6 separate regions of the Homo sapiens genome follow, and regions 1, 2, 3, 5 and 6 are each reported to be linked to region 4. Evidence: microRNA targets listed by miRTarBase, many of them from high-throughput screens and not tested one by one. Region 4 holds a microRNA gene; each other region holds the end of a gene's coding sequence.
What was found. The annotated mature microRNA hsa-miR-520a-5p reads CUCCAGAGGGAAGUACUUUCU and lies in region 4 at 3,178-3,198, shown strand. An mRNA with a match to its seed (bases 2 to 7 or 8) in the 3' UTR can be bound and repressed. Matches are read on the target gene's strand: a 7mer-m8 pairs with bases 2 to 8, a 7mer-A1 pairs with bases 2 to 7 and ends in A, and an 8mer does both.

Region 1: the mRNA of C2CD2L is a reported target of hsa-miR-520a-5p. Seed matches in the 3' UTR shown: 7mer-m8 at 3,067-3,073 and 7mer-A1 at 3,002-3,008.
Region 2: miRTarBase lists TACC1 as a target of hsa-miR-520a-5p. Seed matches in the 3' UTR shown: 7mer-m8 at 1,380-1,386, 7mer-m8 at 3,285-3,291, 8mer at 3,956-3,963 and 8mer at 4,928-4,935.
Region 3: the mRNA of TM4SF18 is a reported target of hsa-miR-520a-5p. Seed matches in the 3' UTR shown: 7mer-A1 at 3,238-3,244 and 7mer-A1 at 1,307-1,313.
Region 5: the mRNA of SON is a reported target of hsa-miR-520a-5p. Seed matches in the 3' UTR shown: 8mer at 2,061-2,068.
Region 6: miRTarBase lists HMOX1 as a target of hsa-miR-520a-5p. Seed matches in the 3' UTR shown: 8mer at 3,729-3,736.

Annotation. Positions count from the first base shown.
Region 1 is chr11:119,115,410-119,120,374 of GRCh38, reverse strand. It overlaps C2CD2L (C2CD2 like), which reads right to left. Exons shown (of 14, transcript NM_001290474.2): 14 at 1,831-4,330. The coding sequence ends at 4,119. Among named protein-coding and RNA genes, the nearest start is that of HINFP, 3.7 kb to the left of the region's middle.
Region 2 is chr8:38,847,123-38,852,087 of GRCh38, forward strand. TACC1 (transforming acidic coiled-coil containing protein 1) reads left to right here. Exons shown (of 13, transcript NM_006283.3): 13 at 833-4,965. The coding sequence ends at 901. Among named protein-coding and RNA genes, the nearest start is that of PLEKHA2, 52 kb to the right of the region's middle.
Region 3 is chr3:149,317,910-149,322,874 of GRCh38, forward strand. It overlaps TM4SF18 (transmembrane 4 L six family member 18), which reads right to left. Exons shown (of 6, transcript NM_138786.4): 5 at 4,347-4,527; 6 at 589-3,583. The coding sequence ends at 3,569. All of the region lies in intron 1 of TM4SF18-AS1 (TM4SF18 antisense RNA 1), which reads left to right. Among named protein-coding and RNA genes, the nearest start is that of TM4SF18, 13 kb to the right of the region's middle.
Region 4 is chr19:53,687,718-53,692,682 of GRCh38, forward strand. MIR520A (microRNA 520a) reads left to right here and starts at 3,164; the gene lies at 3,164-3,248. It overlaps MIR1283-1 (microRNA 1283-1), which reads left to right and starts at 764; the gene lies at 764-850. All of the region lies in intron 2 of LOC107985342 (a long non-coding RNA gene), which reads left to right.
Region 5 is chr21:33,575,410-33,580,374 of GRCh38, forward strand. It overlaps SON (SON DNA and RNA binding protein), which reads left to right. Exons shown (of 12, transcript NM_138927.4): 10 at 187-258; 11 at 369-484; 12 at 956-2,072. The coding sequence ends at 1,015. It overlaps DONSON (DNA replication fork stabilization factor DONSON), which reads right to left. Exons shown (of 10, transcript NM_017613.4): 9 at 3,941-4,153; 10 at 2,142-3,035. The coding sequence ends at 2,898. Among named protein-coding and RNA genes, the nearest start is that of DONSON, 11 kb to the right of the region's middle.
Region 6 is chr22:35,392,511-35,397,475 of GRCh38, reverse strand. HMOX1 (heme oxygenase 1) reads right to left here. Exons shown (of 5, transcript NM_002133.3): 5 at 3,269-4,008. The coding sequence ends at 3,878. Among named protein-coding and RNA genes, the nearest start is that of MCM5, 5.1 kb to the left of the region's middle.

The sequences.
Region 1 (4,965 bases), not on the chromosome of region 4:
ATAACTCCATCAGTGGGCCGGGTGTCGTGGCTCACGCCTGTGATCCCAGCACTTTGGGAGGCCGAGGCGAGTGGATCACATGAGGTCAGGAGCTCAAGACCAGCCTGGCCAACATGGGGAAACCCCGTCTCTACTAAAAATACAAAAACTAGCTGGGCATCGTGGCGGGCGCCTATAATCTCAGCTACTCGGGAGGCTGAGGCAGGAGAATCGCTTGAACCCAGGAGGCACAGGTTGCAGTGAGCTGAGATGGCACCACTGCACACCAGCCTGGGCAACAGAGCAAGACTCTGTCTCAAAACAAAACAAAAAACAAAATAAAACAAAAAACCCATCACTCACTTAGCCCAGTGGCTGAAACTCAGTAAGGGTTCAAGACATACTTGTTAAATAATATACCTTAATAAAGTTGGTTAAGACTGATATTTTATTGCATTGTAGTTTTCTGTATCTTCTAATCTAAAAATAAACCTATATAATTTGTACAATCAGAAAACACATTAAATGTTCAATATATATAAAATAAAATTTAAAATGCCATTAAGATAGTAAAGTCATACTTGTGCATAAATTTTGGTTTTAACAACAGTGAGTTATAACTTGGTCCCTATTTTAAAATAGGGTTTTGCAGGGCGCGGTGGCTCATGCCTGTAATCCCAGCACTTTGGGAGGCCGAGGCGGGCGGATCATGAGGTCAGGAATTCGAAACCAGCCTGGCCAACATGGCGAAACCCCATCTCTACAAAAAATACAAAAATTAGCCAGGTGTGGTGGTGGGTGCCTGTAGTGCCAGCTACTCAGGAGGCTGAGGCAGGAAAATCGCTTGAACCTGAGAGGCAGAGGTTGCAGTGAGCCAAGATCACTCCACTGCACTCCAGCCCGGGCAACAGAGAGAGACTCTGTCTCAAAAAAAAAAAAAAAGCGTTTTAAAAAATGTAATTCAAAAGTAACAAAATATATCTTACCAACTTTATTCATTCAAAAATGCATATAGTAGTACTTCATGAAATGCCATCCTCATTTTAATTCAGATTTACACCACTGAAAATAGCTTTTAGCTTTATTTAGCAATTTTATGAAGAAAAAGTTCATTCACAGAGCTGTGTAAACTCAAACATAGGTTACAGAGCAAAAATTTCAGGATTGCTCTGGGATCCATATATATGTTTCCAAAATTTAAAGCAGTGTCATTCTGTCTAGCATAGTTTACTTCTATCTCAATCTGCTTCTCTTGAAAACAAGCCACAATTTTGGCTGGGTAATTCAGACATATCCTGAGATTTGTTCTTTAAAAGCTGCCACAAAAACTGAAAGCATAATTCATACTCATTAAAAGCTGTGGATCCCTTCTGAAAGTGTGAAATGGATTAAGTTGATGAAAATATGTTTCGTATTTTTTTCATTCATTTAAAAATTCCCTATTTTTGAAACGTGATCAGGCTCTTCTTCACTAAAATATGTGATTCCATGGAACTCTGGGCAGCTCAGTACTGGAAGCTCAATACAGATTCCAGTTACCATCTACTCATTCCCCAGGTCCTGTAGAACTCTGAATACCTGTTCTCCCATCAACAAAAGTTTCTTGTGCAATCACAAGTTCACTGTGTTTGGTTGTCGTGTCATACTGGTAGAAAAACTGTTCCTCTGTGAACCACTAAGAGTTACATTTCTTAGACTGGGGAAACAGCTTGAAAAATCTCTTTGAATTTTCATGACTTAGAATTGAACATTTCACTACATAAAAATCAACCAAATCGATGTGTCCATCAATGGAGGATTGGATAAAGAAAACGTAGTTAATGTAGTGAGTGATAAAGAAAATGCAGTTTATAAACTCCAACTTGACTTTAATAAATTAAATTCCAAGCTGTCACACAGCAATGGACATCATTATCATCGCCCAACACACACACACACAGTGGAATACTACTCAGCCATAAAAAAGAATGAAATCATGTGTTTTCCAGCAACATGGGTGGAACTGGAGGCCATTATCCTCGGTGAAATAACTCAGAAACAAAGTCAAATATGGCATATTCTCATTTATAAGTGGGAGCTAAATAATGGGTATACATGGACATATAGAGTGGAATAAAAGACATCGGAGACTATGAAAGGTGAGAAGGTGGGAGGAGGGTGAGGGTTGAAAAACTACCTATTGGGTATGATGTTCACTATTTGGGCGATGCGCACACTAAAAAAAGCCCAGACTTCACCTCTATGCATGCAATATATGCATGTAAGAAACCTGCACTTGTCCCCCCAAATATATAAAACTAAATTATCTAATTGAAAAAAAAAATCTATACCCTCCATTCTTCCCGGATATCTCATATTTGGTGAGTAGTGTGGACAGGAGCATGGGGAATAGTAACAATTTCCACATGCTATCTACCCAAAGGCATGTGCCCTAAACACCCTGAGATATAGGTAGTCATAGAATGTCAAGGCTGGAAGTGACCTGAATGTTTATCCAGGTCACCCTTATTTTAGATATGAGGAAACTGAGGTCCCCAAAGGAGAAGTTGCCTGCTCAAGATCACTTGGTTTGTCTGTGGCAGACTCAGTTTTCTTGCTTCCTGGTCCTGCATTCTGCCCAATATCCTGTAGCAGCTTACCTGGTTCAAGTCCTGTATAAGATCTCAAGCACGGGAACCAGGGACACAGTTTGCTAGGATCTATCAATCCCTGAAATTTGCCCACATTTCAGAATGAGAGAGCTTTTATTATGTTGAAACACTTCTAAGACTTCCCCCTCCCAGTTTCTTCTGAGGCAACAGTTAACACTCAGCACTTCATTTACTTCTCATCCACAACCAAATGATAGCCATGATGATTGAAGTTCCCATTTTACAGATGAGAAAACTGAGGCACTTAGAGGTTACATAACTTGCCCAAGGTCACACAAGTAATTAGAAGAGCTGGGACTCAAACCCAGGCAGGCAGTCTAGTTACAGGGTCCAAGCTTTGATCTCCATTACATCCTAGAAGGAGCAGCCTGTTCCAGAAAGGGGAATGAAGACTAACCTGTACTAGTTGATTGAGTTTTTTGCTACAATTTCATACTCCAGAGCCTCCTGTCTCTTCCATCCTTTCTCTGCACACCCCTTCTTCCCTGCAGGAACTTCTTAGCAGATCCACAATGTGTGTCATCTACCCAACCTCATTATCCGGGCCCCTGTCTCATCCTCCCACACCATCCATGTCACAGCCTGGCTGCCTACTGCCTTTCAAAGGATAACCAGTTGTCCAGTTTATAAACTCCAATTTGACTTTAATAAATTAAATTCCAAGCCATCACACAGCAATGGACATCATCATCGTCTCCCAACACACAGAGGTGCAGCCTTGCGTGGCTCCATCATCACAGTCTTTAAATAAAGCCCCTAAAGCCATCTCTCTGGGGAAGGCTTCCCACCAGGCTCCCGGCTCCCTCCTTCCCACAGAGCCACTGCTCACAGAGAAGGCATCAAGTACAAAAAACGGTAATAAAGGGGGAGGGAGGGATGAGGAGCAGGAGGGGAGGCAGGAAGGTGGGGAGTACCTGCCCCCCATCCCGGGCCGGCCCTGCTCTCTGTGAGCTGCCAACATTCTCAGAGGCAGACACTGGTGCTGGTCTGAGTGGGGACCTGAGGGAGGTGTGGGAGCCCCATCCCAAAGGGAATTACCCACCCTCCTGGGACAGAAAAGAAGGGTCACCTGGGAGAGATGCCCTCTATCATCTGTTCACGGAGGGTCCTAAGCCACACATATAAATAGAAAAGAGAATAAATAAGGGAAGAAGGGTCAGCTGAAGAGCTGAGCACCCTGGGACTCCGCTCAGGGACCAGGCTCAGCAGGAGGCAAATGCTTCTGGGGAATACCCACACATGCCGGACAGGGCCCTCCTCTCCCTCCCAGCCACCAGTCCCTCGTCCATGTCCTCGGCACCGGGTGCCCACCTCTCATGTGCTTCCCGTTCCAAGTATCCTTCCAACCGGCCCCATGGCCCAGGGTGGACGGGGCTTCCCGGAACCCAGAGGGCTTTCCTGGCCCAGGCACTGGAGATCCAGGAAGGGGTATGGAAGGGGAGGTGGGGAATGGGCTGAGAGAACTCGTGCCCTTTCAGAGCTGGGTCCTCAGAGCTGGGGGCTGGGGTTACCATTGGCCTTGGGTTTGGATTTGAAGGAAAAGCGCTTGATAAGGCGGCGAGAAAAGCTGCCGGCCTTCTTTCGGACACTGGGCGTGGCCGTTGCGTTGGAGAGGTCATCGTGTGATTGGCTCAGGCCAGCTTCCTTCTGCCTAGGCCTCCGGCGGAAGATGAGCTTAGTGCCGCTGCGCAGGAAACTCACTGCAGGGGAAGAGGGGAAGCTGAGGCAGAGAGGGGCACGGGGTGGGGTGAGACGGGGGCAGAGACACGATGGAGAATGGAGGGAAAGAGGATGTGGACAGGATCAGTCCCGTGGCCCAGAAGCCAGGCTTCCTCAGGAAAGAAAGCAGAAACATACTTCTCCATAAGGCTTCGTGAAAAAAAGAAAAAAGAAAACGAAAGCAGAAACAAACATGTGCTTTATCCTTCCTGAGGCAAAAATCGTGGTACTTGTGGGGATCTGTGTACAATCTTAACTCTGCCCGCAAAAGAGATATCACGGAGCTGGCCGCTTTGTGAGGACAAACTGGGATTGGGCCTCTTTCCTATGGGAAGACAAAAGCTACCAGAAGGTACTCCCAAAAGTCTATAAATCATGAAGGGAAAGGTAGGTTGACACTGACTTGTTAACCGAATTCCAGGCTGTGAGCAGGAAGTGGTGCATCTAGAAACTTCAAAGAGGTAAATTCAGAACCAGTATAATGAGCAAGGTGCTCACCCAGCAGGCTTTGGAGGTAGAAACCTCATTATCTCAAGAAGTGATGCAGGCTTAAAAAATAGATAGATAGATCCATGGTTGATAGTCTCACTGGTAGAGGAATGAAGATGTTTTAGGG
Region 2 (4,965 bases), not on the chromosome of region 4:
TGCAATATATTAATATGAAGCCATCTTCCCCCTTCATTGCTTTAGATCAGTGGTTTGCAGTTGGGGGCAGTTTTGCCCTCCAGGGGATGTTAGGTGTTAGGTAATGTCTGGAGATATATTTGTTTGGTTGTCACCACTGGGAGATGCTGCTGGTATCTAGTGCAGGAAGCCAGGGATGCTGTTAAACATCCTACAATGCACAGGACAGCCTCTGACAACACATTTACCCATCCTAAAACATCAGCAGGGCTGCTTTGAGAAACTGCTATAGATAAATGAAAACCAGGACTAGCAACAATCCCTGTTTCTCACTAAGCAATTTTTAGCTTTCCGTTTTTATATGTCTCCGGTGTATTTTCTTTACTGCATTTCCAATTATGTACTCATACCTGTGCCATCCATTCATCAAGAGCAGGAGTTTTTATCACAGGGTCTGTTAGCCCCTAGAACGGTGCTCCCTGGGAGATTCAGACTCCAGCATCCCTAGATATGCTAATGGATTGAGTGAGACCCAGATACTTATGTTTTTGACAAGTACCCCAGATAATTCCTCTGATAACAAGAAAATTGGGGAACTAAGAGATTCATGGACAAGTTTCAGAGGGCTGGTGACTGTCCTCACCCTTTACTCAATTTAAGCATGATTTTATGAGTACATTTTTTGAGGTGTGTAGCCTTTTTTTCTTTAAAGCATCTCTGATGTAGAAAAGTTAAAAATCACTGAATTAGGATGTCTAGGGTAGGGTAGATCCAGACTTGGGACTAGTTAACTCTATTTGCCTTTATTTCAGAATACAAAGTGGCCTGCATAATTATGTCATTTGTCTTTCAGAACCAAGAAATTGAAGAACTGACAAAAATCTGTGATGAGCTGATTGCAAAGCTGGGAAAGACTGACTGAGACACTCCCCCTGTTAGCTCAACAGATCTGCATTTGGCTGCTTCTCTTGTGACCACAATTATCTTGCCTTATCCAGGAATAATTGCCCCTTTGCAGAGAAAAAAAAAAACTTAAAAAAAGCACATGCCTACTGCTGCCTGTCCCGCTTTGCTGCCAATGCAACAGCCCTGGAAGAAACCCTAGAGGGTTGCATAGTCTAGAAAGGAGTGTGACCTGACAGTGCTGGAGCCTCCTAGTTTCCCCCTATGAAGGTTCCCTTAGGCTGCTGAGTTTGGGTTTGTGATTTATCTTTAGTTTGTTTTAAAGTCATCTTTACTTTCCCAAATGTGTTAAATTTGTAACTCCTCTTTGGGGTCTTCTCCACCACCTGTCTGATTTTTTTGTGATCTGTTTAATCTTTTAATTTTTTAGTATCAGTGGTTTTATTTAAGGAGACAGTTTGGCCTATTGTTACTTCCAATTTATAATCAAGAAGGGGCTCTGGATCCCCTTTTAAATTACACACACTCTCACACACATACATGTATGTTTATAGATGCTGCTGCTCTTTTCCCTGAAGCATAGTCAAGTAAGAACTGCTCTACAGAAGGACATATTTCCTTGGATGTGAGACCCTATTTTGAAATAGAGTCCTGACTCAGAACACCAACTTAAGAATTTGGGGGATTAAAGATGTGAAGACCACAGTCTTGGGTTTTCATATCTGGAGAAGACTATTTGCCATGACGTTTTGTTGCCCTGGTATTTGGACACTCCTCAGCTTTAATGGGTGTGGCCCCTTTAGGGTTAGTCCTCAGACTAATGATAGTGTCTGCTTTCTGCATGAACGGCAATATGGGACTCCCTCCAAGCTAGGGTTTGGCAAGTCTGCCCTAGAGTCATTTACTCTCCTCTGCCTCCATTTGTTAATACAGAATCAACATTTAGTCTTCATTATCTTTTTTTTTTTTTTTGAGACAGAGTTTCGATCTATTTTAAGTATGTGAAGAAAATCTACTTGTAAAAGGCTCAGATCTTAATTAAAAGGTAATTGTAGCACATTACCAATTATAAGGTGAAGAAATGTTTTTTTCCCAAGTGTGATGCATTGTTCTTCAGATGTTGAAAAGAAAGCAAAAAATACCTTCTAACTTAAGACAGAATTTTTAACAAAATGAGCAGTAAAAGTCACATGAACCACTCCAAAAATCAGTGCATTTTGCATATTTTTAAACAAAGACAGCTTGTTGAATACTGAGAAGAGGAGTGCAAGGAGAAGGTCTGTACTAACAAAGCCAAATTCCTCAAGCTCTTACTGGACTCAGTTCAGAGTGGTGGGCCATTAACCCCAACATGGAATTTTTCCATATAAATCTCAATGAATTCCCTTTCATTTGAATAGGCAAACCCAAATCCATGCAAGTGTTTTAAAGCACTGTCCTGTCTTAATCTTACATGCTGAAAGTCTTCATGGTGATATGCACTATATTCAGTATACGTATGTTTTCCTACTTCTCTTGTAAAACTGTTGCATGATCCAACTTCAGCAATGAATTGTGCCTAGTGGAGAACCTCTATAGATCTTAAAAAATGAATTATTCTTTAGCAGTGTATTACTCACATGGGTGCAATCTTTAGCCCCAGGGAGGTCAATAATGTCTTTTAAAGCCAGAAGTCACATTTTACCAATATGCATTTATCATAATTGGTGCTTAGGCTGTATATTCAAGCCTGTTGTCTTAACATTTTGTATAAAAAAGAACAACAGAAATTATCTGTCATTTGAGAAGTGGCTTGACAATCATTTGAGCTTTGAAAGCAGTCACTGTGGTGTAATATGAATGCTGTCCTAGTGGTCATAGTACCAAGGGCACGTGTCTCCCCTTGGTATAACTGATTTCCTTTTTAGTCCTCTACTGCTAAATAAGTTAATTTTGCATTTTGCAGAAAGAAACATTGATTGCTAAATCTTTTTGCTGCTGTGTTTTGGTGTTTTCATGTTTACTTGTTTTATATTGATCTGTTTTAAGTATGAGAGGCTTATAGTGCCCTCCATTGTAAATCCATAGTCATCTTTTTAAGCTTATTGTGTTTAAGAAAGTAGCTATGTGTTAAACAGAGGTGATGGCAGCCCTTCCCTAGCACACTGGTGGAAGAGACCCCTTAAGAACCTGACCCCAGTGAATGAAGCTGATGCACAGGGAGCACCAAAGGACCTTCGTTAAGTGATAATTGTCCTGGCCTCTCAGCCATGACCGTTATGAGGAAATATCCCCCATTCGAACTTAACAGATGCCTCCTCTCCAAAGAGAATTAAAATCGTAGCTTGTACAGATCAAGAGAATATACTGGGCAGAATGAAGTATGTTTGTTTATTTTTCTTTAAAAATAAAGGATTTTGGAACTCTGGAGAGTAAGAATATAGTATAGAGTTTGCCTCAACACATGTGAGGGCCAAATAACCTGCTAGCTAGGCAGTAATAAACTCTGTTACAGAAGAGAAAAAGGGCCGGGCACAGTGGCTTATTCCTGTAATCCCAACACTGTGGAAGGCCGAGGCAGGAGGATCACTTGAGTCCAGGAGTTTGAAACCTACCTAGGCAACATGGTGAAACCTTGTCTCTACCAAAATAAAAATTAGCTGGGCATGGTGGCACGTGCCTGTGGTCCCAGCTACTTGGGAGGCTGAGGTGGGAGCCTGGGAGGTCAAGGCTGCAGTGAGCCATGATCATGCCACTGCACTCCATCCTGGGTGACAGCAAGATCTTGTCTCAAAAAAAAAAAAAAAAAAAAAAAAACCAGGAGTGAAAAAGGAAAGTAGAAGGCAGCTGCTGGCCTAGATGTTGGTTTGGGAATATTAGGTGATCCTGTTGAGATTCTGGATCCAGAGCAATTTCTTTAGCTTTTGACTTTGCCAAAGTGTAGATAGCCTTTATCCAGCAGTATTTTAAGTGGGGAATGCAACGTGAGGCCAACTGAACAATTCCCCCCGTGGCTGCCCAGATAGTCACAGTCAAGGTTGGAGAGTCTCCTTCCAGCCAGTGACCTACCCAAACCTTTTGTTCTGTAAAACTGCTCTGGAAATACCGGGAAGCCCAGTTTTCTCACGTGGTTTCTAGCTTCTTCAGACTCAGCCCAAATTAGGAAGTGCAGAAGCACATGATGGTGAAAAACCTAGGATTTGGCAGCCTTCCAGAATGGTATGGAATCTGAGGGAAGATTTATGTTTCGTTTTGGAGGATAGCTCAAGTTGAATTTTCTTTCCAGCCAGTTACCCTTTCAACCTACCCATACTTTGTACAACTCTTACACAAATACTTAGATATTTATTAGATAGCCCTGAATTCACTCTAATTATAAACAGGGAGTGTAAACTGCCCCCAGATGTTCCTGGGCTGGGTAAAAGCAGCTGGAGTGAAGCACTCATTTTCCATAAAGGTAACAAAGGGCAGCTCAGTGGTTACTCAAGCTCAAAAGGGTTTTTTTAAGAGCAAGCATTGGTTAAGTCTGTGTATACTGAGTTGGAAGTGATTTCAGCACATTCTTTTTTAGTGGAGTGAAAGTTCTGAAGCCCCCTTTTAACTTCCTCTTGGTTTTTCATTATAATTGGTAGCCATCTCATGAACTGTCTCTGACTGTTGTCTCTTTGTGGTCATGTGATTGTGAGCTTGCTTTCTGACTTGCATTTCTGACTTTATCCTGTTGTTAGGAAGATAGAAACTAGGTTTTGAAAGATTACATGATTCAAGCGAGGGATTTTAAAGTAAAGATGTATTTATTCTGAAGAATCTAAAAGATAACAGATTATTTGCTTATGAAAGAACAATATAGTCTGGGAATCCCAGAATGTCAAGCCAAAGGTCTAAGAAGTCATCTCCTTCAAATACTTTAATAAAGAAGTATTTCGAGGAGATATCTGTCCAAAAAGGTTTGACTGGCCTCCAGATTCCAGTTATTTTTAAAAAGCAACTTACCACTAAATCCTTGAGTCTCCATAGAGTAACAGTAAAGAAACTGATGTAACAGACTCTCCTCTCAAAGGATCTCCTCTGGAAGAGACTATCAGCGGCAGCATTCTCCAGGGA
Region 3 (4,965 bases), not on the chromosome of region 4:
AATTTTTTTGTATTTTTGGTAGAGACAAGGTTTCACTATGTTGGCCAGGCTGGTCTCGAACTCCTGACCTTGTGATCTGCCCTCCTCGGCTTCCCAAAGTGCTAGGATTACAGGCATGAGCCACTGCGCCCAGCCATATACTTGGAAATTTTAAAGCACATTAAAAATCTCATGGATCAAAAAATAAATCATAAAGAAAACTAGAAAATATTTATAACCAAACAAGGAAAATGCAACATTTTAAAACTTGTGAGATTCAGCCAAAGTGGTAATTAAAGAATGTCTAGTCTTAAGTGCTTATTTTAAGAAAAAAAGAAAGTTAGAAAATCAATAAGCTAGGTATTCTATTTAAGAAGTTAGGAAAATAACAATGAGATAGAAGCAAGGAGAACAGTAGATAAATAATAAGTGCAGAAATGCATAAAACATAAATCATTCTCAATCAGGATTAGCTCATAATACTCTCAGAATTAAAAAGTGGAAAGATTATTTCTGGAAAGGGTAAGAGAAGGCCAGTCATATACATACCTATATATATTTTCTATTTTAACTCCTTAAATGAATTTTACAGAAAGAATTAGAGGACCATTGCTTTTTAAATGACATTTATTTTTTCTAATAATTCAAGTACATAACACATTTTCAAAGGGAAATTTGAAAATACTGAACAATGTAAAGAAAAGAGATAGAACTTATAGTCCTATCATTAGGAGATAATTATTAAGTATTAACTTGTGCGTACTTATGCTTTCTTTTTTCAGCCTATAGCATCTGGTCTCCCATCCAAGTAATAACCTGGATCAATCCTGCTTAAGTTTCCAATATTAGGCATTTTCAGGGTGTTGTGACCACAGATGATGTAACTATTAACTTTTAAATATTTTTCTGGTCTTTACATATCTCAAGGTTTATACATGTCTACATGTAATTATATGGTTACTTAATTAAAAATTTGGGCTCAAACTGCATACATATATTTGGTTTTTGAGTTTTTTTTCCTTTTTACTTTGAATTCACGAGGATATAAAACACATATTCAGCTTTTTTTGTATTCAGCTTTTTTTTACTTAAAATTGCATGATTAGCATATACTCTTCAAATATAGAATATTTGGTGGCTGTGTTAAAATTTAATTTTCCTGATAGAGGTATCATGCTGCATTTGGCTGTACCCCTGATGTGTCCAATGCTGTGGTGGAGTCATTCAGCAAACATCTATTAACAGTCCATTCAACGTACGGTGCCATGCTGAATCTAAACAAGAGATAGACAGTCTGAAAGTATATAACAAACTGATGAAGTGGACCTTCCAGAAGTCTGTTTACAAGAGGGCTGAGGAGACTTTGAGAGAATTTTTAACAAGATGGTCCTAGATATGACTAGCTTATGGACTTGATAGAGAAATCCTGGGCTGTCAGAGGGGAGAGGTCACTCTGAGTACAACATGGTGTCTGTAGCTTGGGTTTGCCTCTTGGTCCAAGTCCTTCAGACCTCATATTTAAGTTCTTTGGAAAGTAGAGTGTTATTGAATGAAGCTCTGTAAAACTCTGGAGCCTAAGCATCTTTGTCTTAGCATCCCTCCAACCCAACATCTAGAAAAGGGAGACTTCATTTGGATCGTTTTAGTTGCAATAAACAGAGCTGCACTGATTTAGTCGGGGGTTTACTGAAATGATCAGCACAGTGACAAAGAAGAAAGACTATCTAGGAATCCAAGAACAGAAACCAGGCCTAGGGTACACTGTTCATTGTGGGCAAAGGCAGTTTTAGGAGCTTTTGGAGTAGAAGTTCATGTATCTTCCTTTTAATATGATACCATTATTAACATGAACCAGATACTCTCTGAATGTTGGCTTCCTTCTTCATCCTTTAATCATTTTTTGATGGTAATGGTCCGGTTGCTTCATTCTTGGCTTCCTAGTTCAAATTCTTATGCTTGAATAACCACCAGTCTTGTTTGGACAGTGTTTTACTCCAGGCTAAGTCAGAGGCCATTAGCAAGACAATAGGCTGCCCATGACTCTGGGGCCTGCCCCAGTTCAGTCAGCTGGGCCCAGAGCATGAAGGTCATGCGGTGTATAACATGGCTTGCTTTCAAGATGCTTGTTTCAGCAAAGGCTGTGAACAAGGCTTAAAGGGGGCTGTTGGCACAGCAGGCATCAAGGAGAAAGATATTCTCTTCCGTATCCCCCCAGCCTACTCCCTGGCTTTGGCACAGAGCAGGTGTTGACAGACCATTGTTGACAGTGTCCATGGAGGAGACAAATGGGGAAATGGCAGAAGTGTTGAGGCCCAGTGCACCTGTGATGGAAGCAGTGCTCAGCAGGGTAACTACAGGAAGCAGAAAACCTGGTATGAGCATTCAACACTGAGTGCCTACTGGCTTCACTGTGTGCTGGGTCCTATGCATGGTGGGAAATATATAAGATGTGGCTACTGTCCCCGAGGAAGACATGGCATGTATAGGTGGAAAATTTGTAAGTGTTCTACTTTTTAATTACTTTAAAAATAAATATAGGTACTGGTAACTCCCCCTGACACAGGTATTGACTGGTCAGTGGTCATTTTCTCTTGCCCATTGAGCATGTTCCCTAGCTGCTCACTTATTTTAAGGCTACCTCTTCTAGTCCATCACACTCACCCTCAGGAGTCAGAAAGGAAGAGCAAGAGTTTAGATTGTATAAGTTTATATAAAACTCTTTTTGGCTCATCTATATCACTACTTTCCTCATTGAATGTTGATGGAAGTGTCATTTCATGATGTTTGCAAATAATGTTGAGGAATGTGGAAAGAGCATATGCCTTAAAGTTTGGAAAAATAAAAAAATTTTAATAGTGAAAATATGAGTTTAGAAAATATTTATAGTAAAACATATTCAATAAAGAAATCTTGGAAAATATAGAAAAGTGGGAAGAAGGGTCATCAATGCCCCAAACCAAGCATAATTGGCATTTTGTTATATTTCCTTTTAGATTTAGTTTTCATCCTAAACTTTGACTATTAGTGTTTCATTTGCTTTAAATAGTTATATAGTAAACATGAATTTGTAACCTGCTTTTTGATGTAGCATTATTCATAATTTTAAAAACATCATTTGTAATGACTGTAATTTTACAACCATGTAGTACTCTTTATTTTTTATTTAATTTTTTTTTTAATATCAGAAAACATTTACAGTATGTACCACTCTTTACTTAATCCTTCCTCTGAGTTTAGAATTTTGGGGTGTTTCCAATTTTCCAGAATATTAAATAATGTTGCAATATACATATTTGCATAAAGGTTTCTCTCATATTCTTATTTACTTCCCTAGTACAGATTCTTGGAAATGGATTTGTTTGATCAAAGGGCAGAAGTATTTCTGAAGTTTCTGATGCATATTACTTAAAAAACATACTAAATGGAAGGGTGGTATACTTGCATGTGCAGTGAGGACTGCAAATTTTTTACAAATAAACACCAAATGCAGAAAGCACCATCATTTCAATATTGCCCTCAAGTCTACACAGTTGATATAATATTTAGATAGATGGCCATGTCTTGATAATGGAAAACATTTTGTCCTTATTCAAATGATTCCAGGCTATAGGAAAAAAGGAAAAACAAAGTGATTAAAGTTATAAACTTGGCTTGATTAGTAATCCGTAATCCAGATAGCAACTTAAACTTATATTTCATATTCAAAATATGATAGAACAGAAAAAACATCTCTTAGAAATTGCTAGGAAAGGTATTACACATTCTGTTGTTAAACAAAATACAAGCCATCTAAATTCATAATTTTTCTTCACTCTGGACTTCTTGATAGCAGTTTCAACCATAACTAAATTAACATTAGTATTTTAGCAGACGAAGTAGAAGTAGTTTCAATGGGATAAATACATATTTCCCTTCTTCTTCAAAAGCACTCCTATGCACTCGAGATAAAGGTTCATTAGTTGAATGTAGCAGCATTCAGAAGAGAAGTTATTTCAATGAGATAAGGTTCTGAGCCTTTGCTTAACTTATGAACAGGGAAATTCTTGATAAATGGTAAAATTTCATCATGCTTTGAGTTATCTCTATGTAGAACACTAAAACTTTGCTCATTCAAAACACTTATGAAGCCTTACCATACAACAAGAAATGCAGATTTTACAATTACTGAGTTGATTCAACCCTTATAGATAAGCCAAGACACATTGGGATATCAGAAAAAATTGAGATATTAGAGCTTGAATAAAGATGAGGGCAATAGAAATGGGGGGAAAGTGATGGAATTCTAGAGTCTTTTCAAAAAGCCTCATTGAATCCTGGGAAGTGGGGGAAATATGGATGAGCTACAGGTGCCCATGAGAATCTGTTACCTGGAAGATCACTGAATAGCTTCCACACAGTATCTTGGATAGTTGCATGACTACTCTGATGAGGCAGATGATCACTTGAAGCCCACTGAGGGTTATGAGAATGGAAAATAAAATGATGTTCCACTCCACAACATGTGCAGGTTCCAGGCACTGAATCCATATGCTAGAATCTGTAAGGAAACTGAGAGAGACCCATGGCCAAATCTACATACTGGGTCCAAGGAAGAAAGCTACAAGCATTTGTATGTTTGAGAAATTACTGTATAACTAAAATATATAGTTATTAGATATGAATTAATACATTTTAAAAACCATTCAGATACACATATTGGACATATCTTATGCATAGCACTGAGCTAGATACTTAGTGTGTTATAAATGTTGTGCTTGCCTTATCACCCCCATGGCCTCTTTGTTTTTCTTTCTCCCTCTTCCATTTCTTTCCTACTTCCTTCTTTTTTACTCTTTCCCCACCTTTATTTATTTTCTACTTTCTAATGCTCCAGGAAATAGAGGCACTCTGAGAATTTCTTTATATTGTTAATGGCTCTTGTCTCCAATGGGAAAGAGCACAGAATATGAAATCAGAATTCCTGGATTTGGGTCTGCAGGATGTTGA
Region 4 (4,965 bases):
TGTTCTTTTAAATTTTTTTTTGCAACAAGATCTGGCTCAGTCGCCCAGGTTGGAGTGCAGTGTTTCAGTCTTGGCTCACTGCAACCTTCGCCTCCCACCCCAGCCTCCTGAATTAGTGTCTACAGGCATGTACCACCACACCTGGCCTACATTTGTATTTTTTTACAGACAGGGTTTCACCGTGTTGTACACGCTGGTCTTGAGCTCCTGAGCTCAAGTGAATCTCCTGCCTTGGCCTCCTGATGTGCTGGGATTAGAGGTATGAGCCACCACACCCAACTGGTACTTGTGTATTCCTGTTCAAATTTTATTGAGGAGCTTTTACCACCTAGCCTGTGGTCTATCCTGGAGGATGTTTGTGTGTGCGACAATGTATATAGTTCAACATCTTAGATCACATTTTGGATGTTTCCAATGGGACTGTGTGTCTCCGCACTGGAACTCAAATGAACACTTGGCTCAGAATCCATTTGCTGTTCTCTGGAAATCCAGTCCAATTCTCTTGGTTAAGTATAAGGTATGTCTAGTAGGCATTGCTTTTTCTGTTTGAGAACAAAACTCGGGAGGATTGTCCCTTGATGAACAAGGCTAACCTGCTGAGCCTTTGAAGCAAGGAACTGGAGATGGTCCTTTTCAGGCGTTTTATTCTGGATTCCAGAAAACATGCAAACAGGGCCACTAAATGCATCTTTATTTTTCTGTCCATTTAAACCTGGTCAAAGAAAATTCCAACACGAAACCCAGAGTGCTGGAGCAAGAAGATCTCAAGCTATGAGTCTACAAAGGAAAGCGCTTTCTGTTGTCAGAAAGAAGAGAAAGCGCTTCCCTTTTGAGGGTTACGGTTTGAGAAAAGCAGTGTTGAAGTTGATGCTGATCTTGGTAATACATTTGCAGAGCATGCTTATCATCAGACTTGGATGATAGCGGGGTTATGTTTTGGTTTTGTGTTTTTCTAAGACAGGGTCTCCGTTGCCCAGGCTGGAGTGCGGTGGCACTTCCAACCTAGCTCTCTTGGGCTCAAGTGATCCTCTTTTTATTTATTTATGTATTCATTTTTGAGATGGAGCCTGGCTCTGTCACCCAGGCTGGAGTAGAGTGGGATGATCTCCACTCATTGCATCCTCTGCCTCCCAGGTTCCAGAAATTCTCCCACCTCCGTGTCACTAGTAGCTGGGATTACAAATGCTCACCACTATGACCTGCCAGTTTTTGTACTTTTGGCACAGACGGGGTTTCACCATGTTTGCGGGGCTGGTCTCAACTCCTGACCTCAAGTGATCTGCCTCCTTGGCCTCCCACAGTGCTGGGGATTATAGATATAAGCCACCGTGCCCGGCCCATTCCTGTCTTTTTAATTTAATCTGCTCGTCCCTGACATCGAAAATTTTTCTTGCTTAACAGCTTCCACTTATTTCTCGGAATAGACCTTTTTCTGCAGGAAGGGTGTAGTTGATTCAACCCTCACCCACTCATGCCAACCGTAGTGAGTGCTGTGACTGCAGCTGCACTGTTTATCCTGTTTTCTGCAGGTAATTTTTCCAGTGTACCATTCCAACCTGCAAAACCTCACATTTAAATGCAAATTTCTTGGTAAGCTGTGAAATGTTGGCTGTGGCTAATATGAGAAACAAGCTATTATAGACAAGATGAATCTCAGTTGCAGTGATAAATGTCACATGGGACAAAACCACAGATACTTTCACAAAAACCTTGAGGACCCTAGAAGGGCCTCCCTAGTAACAGGTGGGATGCGCATCCGCTCTTGTTGCCATAGTGAGTGATGCCTGTTCGTCCAGCCCTCAACACCTTTCACTCCGTGGAAGTTATGCCTGCACTGGTTTACAGAACCTCCCTTGACTTGACTTGAGGTAGAGTTGAAGGGAACCTCAGTGTCCCTTGCAGATGGGATGTGCATTGCTTCGCAAGAGCACAGAGGTGGAGTGCATGGGCTTTGAGTTTTTATTGGGTAAATGAAGCTGAAATACAGGGTGTATGACCACGTTATCAACGCACACTTGATTTAGGTTTTGTATTTTAGAGACGGGGGTGTGAGCTGCCAAAGCAAGGACTTATGTGTAGGAATTATTCTTTCTGTGAGCATACAGTATATGGAACTTTCTTTCTTTTGAGACAGGGTCTCAAAAATATATGATGTATGGCCAGGTGCGGTGGATCACGCCTGTAATCCCAGCAGTTTGGGAGGCCGAGGCGGGTGGATAACCTGAGATCAGGAGGGCGAGACCAGACTGGCCAACATGGTGAAACCATGTCTCTGCTAAAAATACAAAAAATTAGCCAGGGCTGGTGGCGCACGCCTGTAGTCTCAGCTACTCCGGAGGGTGAGGCAGGAGACTATCACTTTGAGTGTGTGTCTTTGTGTGTGTGTGTGTGTGTGTGTGTGTGTGTGTATGTGTTTCTAGTTTTTACAAGACACAGCCTGACTATATCACCGAGGCTGGAGTGCAGTGGTGCAATGTTGGCTCACTGCAACCTCCACCTGCCACCGCAGCCTCCTGAATTAGTGTCTACAGGTATGCACCACCACACCTGGCTCACTTTTGTATTTTTTGTACAGATGAAGCTTCACCATGTTGCCCAGGCTTGTCTGGAACTCTTGAGCTCAAGTGATCCTCTCACTTCGGCGTCCTGAAGTGCTGGGGTTAGAGATGTGAGCCACCGCACCCAACAGGTACTTGTGTATTTTTTTATTGAGGAGCTTTTACAGCGTAGCCTGTGGTCTCTCCTGGAGGATGTTTGTGTGTGCGACAATGTACATTCTTCAACATCTTAGATTCCATTTTGGATGCCCCCATGGGTACTACATGTGCCTATACTGGAACTCAAGTGAACACTTGGCTCAAAATCCATTGCTGTTCTCTAGAAATTCAGTTCGATTCTCTTGGTTAAAGATAAGGTATGAGTAGTAGGCATTGCTTTTTCTCTTTGGGGGCAAAACTCAGGAGGATTGCCCCTTGATGAACAAGGCTAACCTGCTGAGCCTTTGAAAGAAGGAACTGGAGATGGTCCTTTTAGGGGGTTTATATTCTGGATTCCAGAAAACATGCAAACAGGGCCAGGAAAAATGCATCTTTATTTTTGTGTCCATTTAAACCTGGTCAAGGAAAATTCCAACAATAAACCCAGAGTGCTGGAGCAAGAAGATCTCAGGCTGTGACCCTCCAGAGGGAAGTACTTTCTGTTGTCTGAGAGAAAAGAAAGTGCTTCCCTTTGGACTGTTTCGGTTTGAGTAAAGCAGCGTTGAAGTTGATGCTGATCTTGGTAATACATTTGCAGAGCACGCTCATCATCAGACTCGGATGATGTTGGGGTTCTGATTTTGTTTTTCTCCAAGACAGGGTCTCTGTTGCCCAGGCTGGAGTGCAGTGGCAGTTCCAACCTAGCTCTCCTGGGCCCAAGAGACCCTCTATTTATTTATTTATTTATTTATTTATTTATTTATTTATTTATTCATTCATTCATTTAGAGATGGAATCTGGCTCTGTGACCCAGGCTGGAGTGCAGTAGGACAATCTCCACTCACTGCAACCTCCATCTCCCAGGTTCCAGCAGTTCTGCCACCTCAGCCTCCCATGTAGCTGGGATTACAGGCGCCCACCACCATGTCATGCTAATTTTTGTATTTTTAGCAGAGATGGGGTTACACCATGTTTGCTGGGCTGTTCTCAACTCCTGACTTCAAGTGATTTGCCTCCCTGGCTTCCCAAAGTGCTGGTATTACAGGCGTGAGCCACTGTGTCCGGCCTCAAGTGGTCTTCCTGAGTCAGCCTCCCAAGTAGTTGGGATTACATGGGGCGTGACACAACACTTGGTTCAGCTTTTAATTTTTGGTAGAGATGGGGTCTCTGTTGCTCAGGACGGTCTCAACTCCTGAGCTCAAGCGATCCTACAGGTGTGAGCCACCTTGTCCTGATGACCCATTTCAAAGATAGTTGACTTGGCCAGGCATCATGGGGCACACAGTCCCAGTTACTGCAGGGGCCGGGGCGGGAGGGTGCTTTGATTTTAAGGCTATACCGTGCACAGATCCCACCTTTGAATAGCCACTGCACTCCAGCCTGGGCCAACATAGCAAGATCCCATTTCTTTAAAAACAGATTACATAGCACCTGGTCCCACAGATTTCATTTGGGTTGGTCATGTCATACAATGGCCTCCCATCAATTTAGTATAATCAATCCAAACCATGGTTCCTTCATTAAGAGAGTGGGTAATCCTCCAAGTCCATCCAGTCTATTCTGTAATCCCCAGTGGGTGTCCGTATTGATACAATTTCTTTTTGTTCCTGTTCACTCGTGTCTTTTTAGTGTAATCTGCTTGTCCGTAACACTGAAATTTGTTTTTCCCCAACATCTTGCCATCATTTCTCGGAATAGACCTGCTTTCTCTGCAGGAAGGGTGTAGTTGATTCAACCCTCACCCACTAATGCCAACCCCAGTGAGTTCTTTGACTGTAGCTGCCATGTTTATCCTATTTTCTTTGGGTAACGATTCCAAGGTACCATTCCAATGGGCTTAAACCTTGCATCTAAATGCCAGTTACTTGCTAAGATGTCAAATGTGTCTTATATTAGCTGTGGCTAATATAAGAAACTGTTGTAGACAAGATGAATCTCAGTCACAGTGATAAATGTAGCATGCAACAAAACCAGTTGTTTTCACAAAAATCTTGAGGACCCTAGAAGGGGCTCCCTCGTAACAGGTGGAATGCACAGCAGCTCTTCTTGTTGCCATAGTGAGCGATGCATGTTCTTCCAGTCCTCAACACCTTTTATTTATTTATTTATTTATTTATTTATTTTATTATTATTATTTTTTTTTGAGACAGAGTCTCGCTCTGTCACCCAGGCTGGAGTGCAATGGTGTGATCTCAGCTCACTGCAACCACTGCCTCCCGGGTTCAAGCGATTCTCTTGCCTCAGCCTCACGTGTCGCTAGGACTACAAC
Region 5 (4,965 bases), not on the chromosome of region 4:
ATATAAATTTATATGCTGAAAAACAGTAAAAGAGAAGAAAGAGAAGATTGATAGAGAAATCGAGTGTACTAGGAATCTGCTGATTTTATTTGAAGGCATACATTTTGAGGTTCAGACTCCTACAGAGGGATCTTTGTTTTAAAGTGGTGCTTTGAAATTTATTTAGTGAACAATTTTTTTTTAAAGGTCTTGTTGCAGTAGGAGAAAGAGCACAAAAGAGGTCTGGGAACTTCTCTGCTGCAATGAAAGATCTGTCAGGTGAGAGCACGTTTTTGAATTTCCTCTTACCCTAATCCCACCTTGAATTCATTATTTGTTGCAGAAGTTGGTGGAAATAATTTAAAACTGGGTATTTCTCCCCCCTGCAGGCAAACATCCTGTGTCTGCTTTGATGGAGATCTGTAATAAAAGAAGGTGGCAACCACCTGAATTTCTATTGGTCCATGATAGTGGCCCTGATCATCGCAAACATTTTCTCTTTAGGGTAAATATGAATTTCTGCATTAATTATATATATTTATTAATGTGATGACTTAGAGGGTGAGGGGTAAACATGATCACAGGATTAAGATTCTGTTCATGGGTGGGGGGTTTGTATTTGTAGTTAAGTGGTGGGGTTTTTAAACACTGAAGGGTGCTTTAATACGACTTGTCAATGTCCTATTTTTTAAAAAATTGGAAAAGGGTAAAATATAGTATACAATTGTTATTTTCTAGTTGAATGTGGGGAATTAATTTAATACTTTTGTCAGTCTTTTTCTCAATTTGGAGACCTGCTCTAATTTGCAGTCCCTTTCCCAAATGATTTGGTTCTTCGGGTTGAGATTATAATTTGACTTACATAGTATGGGTTTTATATTTTTGTAAATTATTTTTCTAGCATTTAGTGAAAAAATACAAAGCTAATAGATATTAAAGTTTGATGCTGTTCTTATTGTATGTTTTTCTTGAATAGGTATTGAGAAATGGAGCCCTTACCAGACCCAATTGTATGTTTTTCTTGAATAGGTATTGATAAATGGAAGCGCTTACCAGCCCAGCTTTGCCAGCCCTAATAAGAAGCATGCTAAAGCCACAGCAGCTACTGTGGTTCTTCAAGCAATGGGCCTTGTACCAAAGGACCTCATGGCTAATGCCACTTGCTTCAGGAGTGCCTCACGTAGATAGATTGAGGTTTTATAATAATCATTTCAGAATTTTACTCTGCATCACAATGTATTTCCTCTTTAATGTTGTAAATATTTGGCAATTTAAGACATTGTGTAAAAAGCAATCTGTAAAAACATCTCCAGGCTTTGATTTTTGTACCATGGAAATTGTATTTAACCATACAGGGTTTTGGTATGTTTATATTGTTTACCTTAGTGATGTATTTGTTTAAGTGGCTAACATCCAAACGACTGTTTGAAGGCATCAGAGTAATCTTCAGTGTGGAATGTTAAATAACGCTTTTATACTGTATTTTGTACTATGATGTAACTCCCCTTCCTTATGGCTAGGCTACTGTAACACTTGCCTGTAATCAGTGAAGGGCTGTGCACCTTGTACTATTTCACAATGGGTTCTGCTGGACAGATAATGGGCCAGTGTTATTGAGGTGATCAAGATCTGTTCCACAGGGCTAATGCCACCATCTCCCCTCAAAATTTTGTAGAGGTTCTAAAAAGAAAGTGGTATGTTGTGTGATGATCAGCACTAAGTCCTGCATTCCTGTTAAAGCCACTTGGGTCATAAGAAGGGAGTAAAAAATGAAGTCTGACTAGAATTCTATTGCAGAGGCCAGTACATTTAGTATGGCATTGAGTTGTGATATAGTTTTACTTTGATGTGCATTTTGAATTTCAGCTACACCTAGATAGACGTAAAATGATAATTAAAATGCTGTAACCAACTTATCTAATAAAATTGGCAACCAGCCACTATTTTGTTGACTATGAGAAAGTTAAAAGTTTATGTTAATTTTTAGGGTCTGATAGAATATTTCATGTGTATTACAGTGGTATTCATATGCTATGTCTCTAAACTTTATTTTCAAAAGCTTAAGGCCCAAATACAAACTTCTCTGGAATAAACGTGGTGTTTTATTTTCTGGGTTATAAAGTGAACAAATACTTAGATACTATTATTTCTTTACCCAATGCTTTTGATTTTTAAGCACTTTTATTTTAAAAATGTGAATTATACAGTCCCCCCCTACACACACACACACACACACACACACACACACACACACACACACACACACACACACACACACACACACACACACACACACACACACACACACACACACCCCTATAAGCACATTAAATACTACTTTGCCGTGACAGCTCAGTGTACTTCACAATTCTTAACACTATTCTATGTGGAATACAAAATGCCTTTTTATCTGAATTAACATGCATTTAAAAAGTTTTAGTATATGTGAAAATAAAGGAATTATAAATCAGTAGGAAAGATATTAAGGTAGAAGCATCACCAATCAACTAGCTCAGTAGATGTTGTCTGTATTTATTTTCTACCTTTATGAAACAAGAACCTGCTAACAGGTAAATCGTAAAGTAACATATTTTTGCCCTGATGCCATTAGTCACAATGCCATGGGGTAACTGCTATGTGATTTCCCATTTGCAAGGAAGCATATTAATTCAGTTTCTGCTCAATATACAATTAGGTTGTAGGGATATAGATATCTCATTTGAGTTATCTGAGTTTTTCATCTTTATATCTAAAAATCTAATCTGAAAATAGTAAAACACATTTAAAACCTTAGATGCTACTGTAGTAAAAGTTATGTTTATAAACATTTCAGTATATTCCTTCAACTTCAAGAATCTTGAATTTCCTTGCTAGAAGGCTTTTTTCCTCAAAGATTCCTTTTAGGCTTACTTTGGTGTTCAGGATCTCCAATTATAAATGTAGTCTCTCAGCACCACATTCCGTAAAGATGATTTCCCAAGTAACGGTATTTGACTAAGTTGCTCCAGAGTGTTAGGGTGCAAACCACAGTTAGTAAGCTCCTTATGAACAACCTCCTGTGGAAATGTGTGTACAAGTCAGTAAAAAGCACATTAGTCTTTAAACACAGAAGAGTTAAATAATTACTATGGAGACTGACAAATAAATGGCTGATTAATGTGATTCATCCTATTAATAGAAGTTGATGCTAAGAATTTTTGTAGTGACAAAATCCCAAAATATTAATGGTTATAAGTCTAGCCAACTGAGATGCATGAGACAATTTTAAAGGTCTTAATTCTAACTCTAAAAACCTTAAGTATGTTCAAAATTAAAGGCAAATATGGTTAAATACCCACAGTGAATTGTTTCCTTAAACTATAAAGGAATCAGGTACTATTGAGTTTTGGATGCAAGAGGAAATGAAAAAGCTGCCCCTTTTTGGAATGGGAAGTTCTTCAGTCACTGTTAAAACTATTTGGACTGAGGCCGGGTGCCGTGGCTCAAGCCTGTAATCCCAACATTTTGGGAGGCCAAGGTGGGCAGATCACCTGAAGTCAGGAGTTCAAGACCAGCCTGGCCAACATGGTGAAACCCCCGTCTCTAATAAAGATACAAAAAATAGCCAGATGTGGTGGCACATGCCTGTAATCTCAGCTACTTGGGAGGCTGAGGCAGGAGAACTGTTTGAACCCAGGAGGCTAAGGCTGCAGTGAGCCGAGACTCGCGCCGCTGCACTCCAGCCCGGGCAACAGCAAGACTCCATCTCAAAAAAAAAAAAAAATTGTACTTGGACTGAATTCATGAAAGCTACCTCACATAAACAACTTACAGACATTATTCCTTCCTCTAGTAATTCATAATTAAGTAACAGTTTAATTACTTGAAACACAATAGTGACTCAGCATAAATGACTCAATTTCCCTCCAGCTAGTTTGAGGAAACTACAACTAAAACAGTCTGCTCATAGGTGTCTACTTACCATATCAAGTACTTTGTCCATTTGCAGGCAGATGTTAAATACAGCAGTTGGCTCGTGTGGATACAGTACTGCAGAGAAAGATCCACTCTGTGAAGATTTGAGCAGCATGGTCAGTGAATGCAGAGAATGAGGCATGATAGGACCTGTAATCTCCAAACTAAATTGGTCTCTGTATCCAGAAAGAGCTTGTGTCTTCACATTCACACTCCGTGCCTTCATGAAAATGTAAAGAAAAGGAAAATTAAGATCATCTCTCAACCTTTTGCCTAGCCAAAAATATGTTCAATATATTTCCATTTGGGGTTTCCTCTCTTTTAACAATTATGGAATAAAACTATTTCCCAAGACATCTAAACAATGTTATGTGAGTACAAATACTTAGTAAATTTTCAGCAACCTTTCCATATTAAGAGATTTTCAGGTGAAGTATATTCCAGAGAATACCATTTTTTCATATAGTATTTTATCTGATTTAGTAATACACTGTCAATGCAGACTATTGGAAAAACAAAAATTTAAAATCCATTCAATTTTATTGCTAAGATTTAGCATGTATTTTGTATTTACATATATAATTTATTATGATTATAATCCCAGCACTTTGGGAGGCCAAGGTGGGCAGATCACTTGAGGTCAGGAGTTCAAGACCAGCCTGGCCAACATGGTGAAACCTCGTCTCTATTAAAAATACAAAAAAATTAGCCAGGCATGGTGGTGTGAGCCTATAGTCCCAGCTACTTGGGAAGCTAAGGCAGAAGAATCACCTGAGCCCCAGAGGCAGAGGTTGAAGAATCGCTTGAGCCCGTTAGGCAGAGTTTGCAGTGAGCCAAAATTGAGCCACTGCTCTCCAGCCTGGGTGACAGAGCAAGACTCCGTCTCTAAATAGATAGATGAATGAATGAATGAATGAATGAATGAATGCAGGGCGGCCAGGTGCAGTGGCTCATGCCTGTAATCCCAGCACTTTGGGAGGCCGAGGGCAGATCATGAGGTCAGGAGTTCGAGACCACCCTGACCAACATGGT
Region 6 (4,965 bases), not on the chromosome of region 4:
ATTTGTAGAGATGGGGTTTTACCATATTGCCCAGGCTGGTCAACCTCCCTTTAAAATACCTCTATACAAATTAAAGCTGAGTTCAGTTCATACTGAACTCTCTTCCCTGTTGCAATAATCATTACTGATTAAAATCTGTCCTTACCACTTTTTTTTTTTGAGACGGATTCTCGCTTTATCACCCAGGCTGGAGTGCAGTGGCATAATTTCAGCTCACTGCAACCTCCGTTTCCCAAGTTCAAGCAGTTCTCCTGCCTCAGCCTCCTGGTAGCTGGGATTACAGGCACGCGCCACCATGCCCGGTTAATTTTTGTATTTTTAGTAGAGACAGAGTTTCACCATGTTGGTCAGGCCAGTCTCAAACTCCTGACCTCATGATCTGCCCTCCTCGGCCTCCCAAAGTGCTGGGATTACAGGCATGAGCCACCGTGCCCGGTCGTCCTTACCACTTTAACTAGTGTCTGGCTTTGTTCGACAATTGATAGGAAAAAATTATTCAGCCATTCTCCTATTAGTAAAATTCAAGATAGTTTCTCTCTCTCCCCTCCCCTCTTCCTTCCTTTCTTTGTCAGTACAATGAATATCTATTCCCCTTTCACAAATGAGGAAACTGGGCCCAGGGCAGGAGAGTCCCAGCTGCTATTGGGTTTTTGTTTTGTTTTTTTGAGACAGAGTCTTGCTCTGTTGCTAAGGCTGGAGTGCATTGGTGCGATCTCGGCTCACTGCAACCTCAGCCTCCCGGATTCAAGTGATTCTCCTGCCTCAGCCCCCGGAGTAGCTGGGATTACAGGCATGCGCCACCACTTCCAGCTAATTTTGTGGTTTTAGTAGAGGCAGGTTTTCACTGTGTTGGCCGGGCTGGTCTCAAACTCCTGGCCTCAAGAAATCCGCCTGTCTCAGCCTCCCAAAAGTGTTGGGATTATAGTCGTGAGCCACCGTGCCCAGCTCCAGCTGCTATTTGAATGCCTATGCTTTGCATACGTGACCATACGTGCTCCTGGACCTGGGTGCGCGTTGGACTCTCCTAAGGTACTTTTCAAAAATACTGATTCTAGGCTGGGTGCGGTGGCTCGCGCCTGTAATCCCAGCACTTTGGGAGTCCAAGGCGGGCGGATCACGAGGTCAGGAGATCGAGACCATCCTGGCTAACACGGTGAAACCTGTGACCTCCGTCTCCACTAAAAATACAAAAAATTAGCCGGGCATGGTGGTGGGTGCCTATAGTCCCAGCTACTCAGGAGGCTGAGGCAGGAGAATAGCGTGAACCCGGGAGGCGGAGCTTCCAGTGAGTCAAGATCGCGCCACTGCACTCCAGCCTGGGTGACAGAGCAAGACTCCGTCTCAAAAAAAAAAAAAAAAAAAAAAAAATTCTAGAGCCCCATCCCAGGTGGAGCCCTGGATTCTGTGGTTAAGTATCTCCAAGTAATTCTGATGCCACCATGCACAGACTGGTGTTTGGACACCACTGGATCCTCCCACCAGCTGTGAGAGGTATGTGTATTGTTCTCATTTTACCAGTGAACAAAATGAGCCTTGAAGTGGCATAGTCAGACTAGTGACAAAGGTCTCCTGACTTCCAGTCCTTAGGTACTGGTCCTATAAAGAAACACCTTGGCTGGGCACAGTGGCTCACACCTGTAATCCCAGCACTTTGGGAGGCCGAGGCAGGTGGATCACGAGGTCAGGAGTTCAAGACCAGCCTGGCCAACATGGTAAAACCCTGTCTCTACTAAAACTAAAAAAATTAGCCGAGTGCGGTGTCATGTGCTTATAATCCCAGCTACTTGGGAGGCTGAGGCAGGAGAATTGCTTGAACCTGGGCAGCAGAGGATGCAGCGAGCTGAAATCGCACCACTGCACTCCAGCCTGGGCAACAGAATGAGACTCCATCTCAAAAAAAAAAAAAAAAAAAAAAATACACCTTGGCCAGGCACAGTGACTCACGCCTGTAATCCCAGCACTTTGTGAAGCCAAGGTGGGAGGATCACTTTAGTTCAAGAGTTTGAGACCAGCCTGGGCAACATAGCGAAACCCCATCTCTAAAAAAAAAATACAAAAATTAACTGGGCATGGTGGTGTGCACTTGTAGCCGCAGCTACTCAGGAGGCTGAGGCCAGAGGATGGCTTAAGCCCAAGAGGTGGAGGTTGCAGTGAGCCAAGATCACACCACTGCACTCCAGTGTGGAGGACAAAGCCAGACCCTGTCTCAAAAAAAAAAAAAAAAAAAAAAAAAAAATCTTGTCCCATGCTCTGCCCAGGACACTTTCAGCAAAAGGTTTTTCACTTTCCCAGATTGGGAGGCTACATATTTAGTATTTTCTTGACTTAGGGCCATAGAAAGGGCTTGGGTTTTAGAGCTGGACAGACCTCAGTGAAATCCATCCTGACCCTCAGATAGTGGAAACACCCCCTCAACACAGGGATGACATAGATGAGGTGACTCGACAGTACAAGAATCACAAAACACTGGTCTCCTTCTTTGCATAATAGGTGCTAACTGTGTATGGCGTTGGCATTTCACTTGCATCTTGTTTGCTTCTCAGGACACATAGGTGAGTTAGGTATCACTATATTCATGTCACCAGTGATAAAATGGAGCCTCAGAGAGGTTAAGTGACTAACCTCAAAGTGGTGTAGCAGGAATTTGAACCTAAGAATTTCACTCCAGTCCCTAATAGTCACTGGACAGAAAATACAAATTTTGCCCCAGAATCTGCTCATTTCCACCAAACAGGGCAACCCCATCTTCCATAAAGTCGAGAATTGCATCAAGCAGGGTTCAACACAAATATTCGCCCACCAGCTACTTAAAGCTCACCTCCTGGGCCAGGCACGGTGGCTCACGCCTGTAATCCCAGCACCTTGGGAAGCTGAGGCAGGTGGACCAGCTGAGGTCGGGAGTTCGAGACCAGCCTGGCCAACATGGGGAAACCCCATCTCTACTAAAAATACAAAAATTAGCTGGGCATGGTGATGAACTTCTGTAATCCCAGCTACTCAGGAGGCTGAGGCAGGAGAATTGATTGAACCTGGGAGGTGGAGCTTGCAGTGAACCAAGATCACGCCACTGCACTCCAGCCTGGGTGACAGAGTGAGACTCCATCTCAAAAAAAAAAAAAAAGAAAAGAAAAGCTCACCTTCTGTATTCTCAAACAGACCAGCTCCTGCCAACCCCCTATCACCACTTCTCCTACCGAGCACGCAAGAAACCAGGGAGGAAAAGGTCAGTTCCCCAAGAATAACAAAGCCCATGAAAACTACTTCAAGCTACTATCAGACAATGTTGTTTATTATTTCACACAAAAGTTAGACCAAGGCCACAGTGCCGTTAAACACCTCCCTCCCCACCCACGCATGGCTCAAAAACCACCCCAACCCTGCTATAAAAACAACAGAACACAACAAAAATACTGCATTTGAGGCTGAGCCAGGAACAGAGTGGCTCCAACAAAAATAAGACAAAAACACAAGACACAACATCTTTTCAGGTTTGTGTAAAAATTGCCATGGCCCACGGGGAAAGTGGTCATGGCCGTGTCAACAAGGATACTTGAAACTCAGGGCTTTTGGAGGTTTGAGACAGCTGCCACATTAGGGTGTCTTCCAGGCTCTGCTGCAGGAACTGAGGATGCTGAAGGGCAGGGCTGATCCCTTCGCCCCCTCTGAAGTTTAGGCCATTGCCTGGATGTGCTTTTCGTTGGGGAAGATGCCATAGGCTCCTTCCTCCTTTCCAGAGAGAGGGACACAGTGAGAGGGCTGGAGGCCCTGAAAGCCTTCAGTGCCCACGGTAAGGAAGCCAGCCAAGAGAATTCCCTCTCTAGAAAGAAGGCCTTCCACCGGACAAAGTTCATGGCCCTGGGAGCCAGCATGCCTGCATTCACATGGCATAAAGCCCTACAGCAACTGTCGCCACCAGAAAGCTGAGTGTAAGGACCCATCGGAGAAGCGGAGCCTGGGAGCGGGTGTTGAGTGGGGGCTTCCCTCTGGGAGTCTCCACGGGGGCAGAATCTGAAAGAGAAAATGGGGCAAGGTCATTAACAGGTGGGCGTGCATCAGGGTGTCTGATGTCATAGGAAAGCAAAGCAGAGCGGCCTCAGGGTCTGTGGTACAGTCACTGCCCAACGCCAGGATTCTGCAAGACCACAGACAGGTGTCCCTCTAGCCACTGCTTGAATACCTTCAAAGACGGGCAGCTCACTACTTCTTCAAGCTGTCTGTTCTTCCCTGTGCAGCCAGGCCACATTGTGAAAACATTCTTGGGCCCAGGCGTGGTTTTCAGACTTCTGCCTGCTCCCTGTCCTCTCCTTAAACTTTGCCAGCAATTAGGTCTGAGCTGTAAATCTTCCTCTCAAACTCACACGTTTGCTAAGCATGGTGATGATGGGGCAGGAGCTAGAAAGCAGGAGCTCTGAGGTCAAAATTCAAGTTCAGTCCCATCCCTGGTTATTAAAATGTGATAGGGCCGGGCGCAGTGGCTCACGCCTGTAATCCCAGCACTTTGGGAGGCCAAGGCAGGTGGATCACGAGGTCAGGAGTTCAAGACCAGCCTGGCCAATATGGTGAAACCCCGTCTCTACTAAAAATACAAAAAATTAGCCGGGTATGGTTGCGAGTGCCAGTAATCCCAGCTACTCGGGAGGCTGAGGCAGAGAATTGCTTGAACCCAGGAGGCAGAGGTTGCAGTGAGCCAAGATTGCGCCACTGTACTCCAGCCTGGGCAACAGAGTGAGACTCCATTTCAAAAAAAAAAAAAAAAAAGATTTAAAACATGATAGGCCAGAGCCAACCATGCAACCTGGGTAGATGTGCCACCTGCCTCCTCAGGCACAGAGTGGGTGCTCCCTAGGTCTTTAGAAGCAGGACAGAGTCCAGGGCAGGTCTCTGGAGCCAGACCAGCTGGGTTTCAATCCTAGCCCCGCCCTGGGCTATGAGAAGGGCTTCCCCAGAGAAAACAGGGCCTTAGGT